Linked DNA regions of Homo sapiens: regions 1 and 3 are each linked to region 2. The links come from fine-mapping of genetic effects on plasma protein levels. A gene starts in region 2. Each other region holds a variant in brackets. All regions are shown on one strand. Distances are from middle to middle.

Region 1 (2,761 bases), 36 kb after region 2:
GAGTCATCAGCCTGCAAGGTCTTTGGTAGAAACACTAATCTCTGCAGCCTCCCCTAAAGATATGTTACTATCGTTGACTTTTCTATTTTGAAACAGTTGTTCAGTTGTATTCTATTGGCCTTTTATATCACAATGGCCCTCACTTCATGGGTCAGAGAGCCAATATGGGGATCTTTTCCAACTATCTCTCCGAAACTGCTGATATAGAATAGTTTTGGAATTCCATTAGGCCTCCAGTGGCATGGACAAAAGCCAAAACACTTTTTCACATGATAGATGGACCTACAGTGGTACTCTTGAACCCAAGAAACTGGTATTAGCTCGAAGTCTTCATCAAGGTTCCCTGAATGGTGTATTTCCCTTTCCCCAGTATCCATTTACCTTGGGAAATGGCCACAGATCCTTTTGGAGAAGGCAAGAGAAATATTCACATTACACTCATGCAATATAGCAGAGTCCTTCCTCAAAGGTGAGTAGCATATCCTTCAATCAAAGGGCTTTAGATCAATAAACGCAAGCCCAGTGTTACACAGTGGCTCAAGTCGTGACTTTTTTTTTTTTTGCCAGAACTAGAGGGTGTTTTTGGTTTCCATTTTGCTTTGTTTCTTATGTTTTGCTGGTTAAACAAATCAAGTAAGACTTTAGTGGGTTGCCTTTAACTTTTTAGGGCCCTACACTGTGGCAGTGTGCCACGGTTACTACTTGAGACCATCATTACGACAGCTTACTACTGTTACTGCCTGAGACCGTCATTACAAGACTGAATGAAGGGACGAACATAGAAATGAAAACTTAAGACAAAAGAAACTATTTTAAAGGAAGGGGCCGGGGAAGAAGAAGAGAGCTCCCCGCTTCTAGTGAGCAAAGGCAGCCCCCAAGCTTCCACAGTCCTTCCTATTTATTGGGTAACAAGAGCAGGGAGGAGGAGGTAATGATTGGTCAGCTGCTTAACTGATCACAGGTTCATATTGTTACTAACAGGCTTCAGATGTACCTAATCACAAGAAACACTATGCTTGGGACGTGACTGCCCTCAGCATTCCTGCCGGGTGGCAGATGCAGTTCGTCGGTTTGCCAACATTCTGCATTTATGAGAAACAGTTTGCTGCTTACTCATATAGCCTCCAGTAGTATATGGAGTTGATCA[C/T]GACCCTCATCATTTCGGCCTGTAACACTACACCATGAGTTCTTGCCTCATACAGAGCCTACTGAATATTCCAGTGATCACTCCCACTTCATTTCTGAGGATGAAGTGCCAACGCCTGGCCTCCCACATCTCTGCATTCTTCTTCCCCTCTGAATCAGGCAACCTATTTCAAATTGCAGCCCCTCCACCCAGCATTCTTGACTTTCCTCAAAGCAAGGGTAAAGTGTGAGGGCTACAGTTAGAGGTATTTGTGGGAAGGAGGCACAAAATAGATCCAATCCAGCCTCCTGTCTTTCAGAAATCTTTGAATCTCTTCTTCTACATGATGCCAAGGGATTTGGGGCCCTTAAGTTCCATTTCACGTGGGCCAGCATTTGTTTTAAGTTTGCATTAGCCAACTCATCACATTGTTAGAGCCTTGCCAGCTCCTGGAGCTAGCACAGAGAATGCCAAATAATCCCTGGCAAGTGAAACCATATCAAGAAGATCAGCCTGAGCCAAGATTACATTCCCCCTTCCTTGATAAAGCACCACAAAAATCCATTTCCACAGATACTTCCCCAAATTTTTGATGGTGTCAGTTAACAAGTTTCTTCAATTCTGTATGGGTCCAGGATTTTTACCTACTGTGTCTACTTGTCATGCTCTAGGCCAAACTGATCCCCACCTTCCAGCTAAGTAGCCTTGAGGGATGGGGCAAGCAGAAAATTGTGAGCTTTCTCCTCTAAGAAAAGGTGTGAATTGTTTGCACCCAGTGTTTTAGAGAGCTTTCAGTTTTCTCCCACATCCTCTCATATGATCATTCCACTTGTCATAATCCCACTGCCTATTAATGCCTAACTTCACAAAGTGCAGCAGGGCTGTGAATTCAGCAGCCTGCATCATCAATTGCCAACTTTGGTATTTGGAGAACTAGGCCCTACTGCAAGTCATAAGAGAGTCTTTTACCGTAGTCATAGAAATGCTGTCCGTTCATTCTGTTTATGAATTTTTTTTATGTTAAAAAAAAAGGCATTGGGGCTTCCTTTGTTGACTCTCCCTTTATATTAATCTATGTGGTTAGAAACAAAATACTCTATCACACAGCCTGAACACTCCTCACTTCCTTAAAATTAACTGTGACACGTGTTATCCCTTCTCTGAGAGCCTCCTCAGTGGTCAGATGCTATGAAGTAATGTAAGACATAGGTCTTTACCATTGCAGACCATTGCTGGCTTCCCAGACTAGAGCATGAGCAACAACCTCATTGTATTTTGCCCCATCACAGTCTTAGGAAATATCCCACATTTCCTAGAGGATATGGTGTCTACAACTCAACTCTAGTTCCAATTTCTGTATCAGTTAGGAATTTTTGGTTGCAAACAACAGAATCCAACTCTGGAAAACTTAAGCCAAAAAAGGACTGCATTGGAAAGGTACTGGATAGGATCAAAGTCAAATTAAACAACAAGGCTTTGAGAAAGACAGCAATTCGAGCAACATAGGGATTGAGGTAGGTAAAACTCATAAATCACCTCTTTGGGGCACTACAATTAAAATAGCTTAGTGACAACTGCCTCCATTGTATAAATCACTCTGCTCAAGCTAAAAAATTCTCTGAAGATTGAGTCTAA
Region 2 (2,761 bases):
TAATAATTGTTAAATCCAGTTGTAGGTATACAAGTATCATTGTTCTGTTATTTCAATTTTTCTGTATGTTTAAAAAGTTCATAATAAAAAGGTGGAGGAGGAAATAGCCAATACATTCCAACATTCTAGTATTTGTTTATGAACTTCCCAGATTCCATCCCTGGTATCCAAATGATCTGAGTCCAGTGATATGACTGGTGAGATTGTAACCAAAGATTCACCACCTAATAAGGAGTAGGCTCACTTCCAGGAATGGAGGTATCCTCCCTGCCTCCACTTAACCCCAACTCAGTCCCTTCCACACTTCAGGATGTGGAACACCCCAAACCCAAATCTTTGCATTACTCAGGGGTCCTGTTAGTAAATGACAGAAATCCAATTCAGACCAGCTTAGGCAGAAAGGTGAATGTATTGGGTGGTAACATAACCCTGGGTATGAGTGGGGCTGATCTCAGGAAAAAGTTTAGTGAAGGACTAGATATCCTCTAAATTACTCCCTGTCCATCTCTCATCTCTTTTTATCAGCATCTTAGATTTATCTTCTCAGAATTTCTCTCTCACCAGGGCCAGGACCAAATTTCTGGAGTTTCTGGGCTTATATCTGCAACTTTTCCAACAGGAAGGATTTTCCTCCCTTTAGTACTCATTCAAAGAAAGGACCCCAAAAGCCTGGTCACACACACACACACACACACACACACACACACACGCACACACGTCCATGTCTTCTTCCAAATCCAGGAATTTGGGGGATGCAGGGGCAGAGGAGGGAAAACAAATCCTATGAAGATGATACAGTATAATTATTATGCTCATTGTATGAATGAGGAAACGGAGGCTTAGAAAGGTGAAGCTGCTTTCAAAGTCACACAGCTGGTGACAGGTCCAAAATCTGCTTTCCTCCAGGCCACATGAGATTGGCGGGGGGCAGGAGCACACGGTGCTGGAGCGCAAGGCTGAGAGTGAATGTTCAGGACAGACATTTTAAGCACTGCCATTCAGATTCTTCCTTGGGGTGAGGTGAGAACTGAGAACAAGTCCGGGGCAGCACAGGAAGGAGGGAAGATTTTGGTCCCAGGTGAATCAGGCATGAAGAGGGACTGATAGAGAACACGGTGGAGTTGAGGAAGTCTGGCCCTGCCACTGCCTCGTGTGTGAACTTGAGTAATTTCATGCCCTTTCTGTGCTTCTTTTCCTCCTTCCATAAGATAGTTTGGCCCTGGTGGCGCCTAATGGTCAATCACGTGTCCATTTCTTCTCCTCGTGTGAAGAACGAGGGTCGCTCTTGGATTTCTTCATCTATTCCAGTGCAGAGCCTTAGGGAAAGCCCCAAGTCCCTCCTCAGAAGGGGCCATTTCCAAATAGAGCTGGGAAGTGCAGCCTCCCTTGCCATTTTGAGCCTTCAGCTCCACCCACTGGCATGCCCAGCAGGAACACTATAAAGCCAGGCTCAGCCCAGCTCCCAGCCAAGCACCTGCCTGGCAACATGGGGTCCAGCAGCTTCTTGGTCCTCATGGTGTCTCTCGTTCTTGTGACCCTGGTGGCTGTGGAAGGAGTTAAAGAGGGTGAGCAGACATGGTGGAGCTGGGTGGGGCTGGGCTGGGGAGAGGTCCTGAGGGGCCCTCTGGGGCTGGAGTTCTCATATCACCTTGTGGCTTCCTCCACTAGGTATAGAGAAAGCAGGGGTTTGCCCAGCTGACAACGTACGCTGCTTCAAGTCCGATCCTCCCCAGTGTCACACAGACCAGGACTGTCTGGGGGAAAGGAAGTGTTGTTACCTGCACTGTGGCTTCAAGTGTGTGATTCCTGTGAAGGAACTGGAAGAAGGTAAGGAGACCTGCCTCCCAGGGCTGGGGCTGTCCCTTCCCTGCCTCTATCTGACCCATGAAAGTTCGGAGGAATTAGTCCCTTTAGCTGGTGTGGGGAGGGATGGCTAAAGCTGGCAGGGCCCTCAGAGACCACCTAGTCTGAACATCTCCATTGTCCAAAGGAGGAAACAAGGATGAAGATGTGTCAAGGCCATACCCTGAGCCAGGATGGGAGGCCAAGTGTCCAGGCTCCTCCTCTACCAGGTGTCCTCAGAAATGATGCTGGGTCCTTTCTACCTCTGGGGGTCACTCTCACTTGGCACCTGCCCCTGAGGGTCCTGAGACTTGGAATATGGAAGAAGCAATACCCAACCCCACCAAAGAAAACCTGAGCTTGAAGTCCTTTTCCCCAAAAAGAGGGAAGAGTCACAAAAAGTCCAGACCCCAGGGACGGTACTTTCCCTCTCTACCTGGTGCTCCTCCCTAATGCTCATGAATGGACCCCTCATGAATGAAACCAGTGCCCTTATAAGAGACCCCAAAGAGCTGCCTTGCCCTTCTGCAATGTGTGATCACAGCTAGAAGGCACTGTCAGAGAAGAGAAACTGGTCCTCACCAGATGCTGAATCTGCTGGTGCCTTGATCTTGGACTTCCCAGCCTCTAGAACTGTAAGAAATAAATATTTGCTGTTTATAATCCACCCAGTCTATGGTAATTTGTTATAGCAGCCCAAACCTGCTAAGACAACCTAATAGTAAAAAAAAAAAATCCTATTCAACATTATCAAAGTGAATAAAATATAAAATACCTACAAATAAATCTAGAGATGTACAGAAATTTTCTGAAAGGAAACCCTAAAACTTTATTAAATGACATTTTAAAAGATCTGGATAAATAGACTAAACTTTTCTACAGAATAAATAAATAAATGTTTTTTAAAAGATATGCTCTT
Region 3 (2,761 bases), 12 kb before region 2:
GCTCAGGATATGCACTGTCCATTTCACATAAGGGGCATCACCCTTCTCTTCTGTATGAAGGGGACATTTGGACAAGATAATCTCTAAGTTGCTCAAGGGTTATTGAATTTTTATTGTTATTATTTTAGTTTTTCACGATACCTTTCACAGCACCTTTCTCTTCATATTTAAATTGTAAGGTCAGGGATTATAAATTCATTATTCCTTAGGATGGCTTGCCTAGAGTCCCTGATCCCCAGTCCCTGATTCTGGGGCAGCATATCTCAGTTTTCTGTGAAGGAGAGTACTTAGCAGGATTTCTGCCACAGTGCCCCAGGACACAAATTCATGTCTCCTGCAATGCCATGTCACCTGGCATTGACAAAGTACCAGCCAGGCTGAACCTTCCCTGAACCTTTTCACCTTCCTACATCCCTGATTCTCTCTTCTCTCTCGAGGTGGAAACTCCTTAGCCAAGCCTGAGGAGACGCTGGTGCTACAGGCTCTGATTTGGATAACTGGTCTCCAATTTGTCCATGATCTTCCCAGGCCCAAGATGTCATTTCAGAGTTAAATGCTTGTTAATATGACAAGAAGACAAAGAGATAAAGCATTGTATATTTAAAACCACAGAAAAATCTGTAAGACTGCTGGATCTCCTCTCTCTCTCCCTGTCTCTCTCTCCATCCTTTATGGCTTTTCCCTTAGGATCTGAAAAAAGGATATGATTAATATTTCACATTTAGTTAAGGACCACAAAGGTAGTAGAAGTCTGGACAAGTCTTCCAAAATTTTATTTGTAACTATTATAAACAAATTTTGAAAAGCCAATTATTCCCTAGCATGCTTTAAGTTGACATCTAACATTTTTATCATAATTGCATAATAGTTACAAAGAATAAACTTTTAAGAATATGATGAATATTGTCCTTTCATTTAAAAAGCAACCTTAATCTTTTTAATGTTTCTAACGGAATTTAATCATCTTGACTTGATAGTAATAACTATTAAGGAAAAAAAAAGCATGTTCTTTTCTCCCATCTTCTTCCTCTTCTTCTCCCTTTTTTCAACATTTCCTGAACTATTCAAACCAAAACTATAGGTGAGTAGGTTTGTTTAGGACTCACTCTGAAAAGCAGATACCTAGACAGGATTAGGTAATCAAGAGTGTGTGTCAGGGAAAATGCCTGTGAGGGACAAAGGGAGGTAGCCAAAGTGGCAAGGAGAGCATGAGACCATGATGCAGGGCTGCCTGCTCTGAGGGAGGAGAGAAGGAAGGAGGAAGAGTCTCAGAATGAATTACAACATTGGTAAAGTGCCAGTCAGGCTGAAAGACAA[C/G]GCTTGAACTGAAGTCACCTATCAGAAGAGGCCCAGGTCTCAGAATGAGCCTGCCTTAGTGTTCGGGCCTCACTCAGTCATTGGCTGGGAGTAACCTGATGGAAGCATCCATGACTTCTGCACAGACATAGTGGCAGATGCAGAGGACAGTAGCTGGGGGCATCCATCAGTTGCACACCCTGAAGCAGCAGGAGATCTAAGCAGTGCATTTCCATGCTCACCACTGTCCTCTACCTTGTGTTGCAGTTACTTCTCCAGGTATGGTGATGAAGGCTAGTTATCCCAGCTACTTGGGAGGCTGACGTGGGAGGATGGCTTGAGCCTGGAAGTCAGAGGTTGCAGTAAGGGGAGACCGCACCTCTGCATTCCAACCTGGGCGACAGAGCTAGACCCTGTCGCAAAAAAAAAAAAAAAAGAAAGAAAGAAAGAAAAAAAGAAAAAAGAAAGCTGGTTAATGTCAACTTGTTGAGTTTTTCATCTTGGCTGTCAGGGTCTAATCTATCATAGATGCTTCCCAGCAGGTGTTAATATGTAATACACAAGTCTTCACAGTAAATGTCTCCTCACATTTTGGTCCTCTTTCCCTACCACAGACATCCTTGCTACTGATTTTCTAGTCCTTTGCCTTCCAAGCTCCTTTTTAAAAAATTGGGTTTTAATATTATTTAGGTATTTAATATTATTTAGGTATGACAAAGCGAACATATCAGGAGATTACTGCCTTTTAAAAGAGAGTTTGTTATACTCACATATCTCAAAGGAGAGCCACACCTTGCCATGGGAAGGGTAGGGCAGGGGGGCACATAGAAAGCACCTTTTTCAGTCAAGAGATAGAGGGAGTGAGGGAGAAATGTGGGCAAACCTTTTCTGTGGTTCCTGCAAGAAGGAGCAGGTGAGGCAGGGTAAGTGTCTCAAGATTGGCCAGTTTGAATAATTTCAGTGATCTCTGAGGCAAAAGTACTGTCCCTAGCTGTCTCTGAGCCAGTACCATGATGTTCCCTATGGCCCCAAACCCTAGTAGACCCAGGGTCCAGCCTATCTCAGTAGACCGCAGCACTAGACTGGCCCCCAGAGACTCAGGCTCCAGGCTAGCCCCTATGGCCAGGACCCAGGACAACCCTTGTGAACCTAGCCTCCAGGCCAGCACCCACACACCCAGCCCCCAAGGTCAGCCCCAGTAAACTCAGGCTCCAGGCAGGTCCCCACAGACCCGGGCTCTAAGCCAGCACACACGTCTCCAGGAAACTGGCCAGCATCTGCAATGCCAGGATCCAGACAAGCCCCTGCAGACCCAGGAACTACAACTGCCACAACATGAGGCCAAACCCAGACTCTAGACCAGACTCTGTGTTCTCAGAGTCCAGAAGACAAAGGGTCCAGGATTGCCCTAACAGACCCAGGATCCAGGCCCATCCCAGTAGACCCAAATACCAGGCCAGTTCCC

Alleles and levels. Positions count from the first base shown, and alleles are read on the strand shown. Strength reflects both the effect of a copy and how common the allele is.
For the plasma level of the protein whose gene starts at base 1,469 in region 2, T is the high allele of the variant in region 1 and C is the other (weak association).
For the plasma level of the protein whose gene starts at base 1,469 in region 2, allele G in region 3 goes with a lower level than allele C (moderate association).

What was found. PIP is the posterior inclusion probability: the model's chance that the variant is causal. Protein levels are from antibody-based Olink assays in UK Biobank. Linkage for the fine-mapping came from a reference panel and not from the study's own genotypes, which makes the PIPs less certain.
Region 1: its variant is fine-mapped to the plasma level of the WFDC12 protein (UK Biobank, PIP above 0.99).
Region 3: its variant is fine-mapped to the plasma level of the WFDC12 protein (UK Biobank, PIP above 0.99).

The regions. Positions count from the first base shown.
Region 1 is chr20:45,086,830-45,089,590 of GRCh38, reverse strand. No RefSeq gene overlaps it. Among named protein-coding and RNA genes, the nearest start is that of KCNS1, 13 kb to the left of the region's middle. The variant C/T (reference allele first, on the strand shown) is at 1,148.
Region 2 is chr20:45,123,173-45,125,933 of GRCh38, reverse strand. It overlaps WFDC12 (WAP four-disulfide core domain 12), which reads left to right and starts at 1,469. Exons shown (of 3, transcript NM_080869.2): 1 at 1,469-1,565; 2 at 1,669-1,827; 3 at 1,991-2,509. The coding sequence starts at 1,487. The coding sequence ends at 2,088.
Region 3 is chr20:45,135,574-45,138,334 of GRCh38, reverse strand. It overlaps LOC101929863 (a long non-coding RNA gene), which reads left to right. Exons shown (of 3, transcript XR_936751.3): 3 at 438-897. Among named protein-coding and RNA genes, the nearest start is that of WFDC12, 12 kb to the right of the region's middle. The variant C/G (reference allele first, on the strand shown) is at 1,318.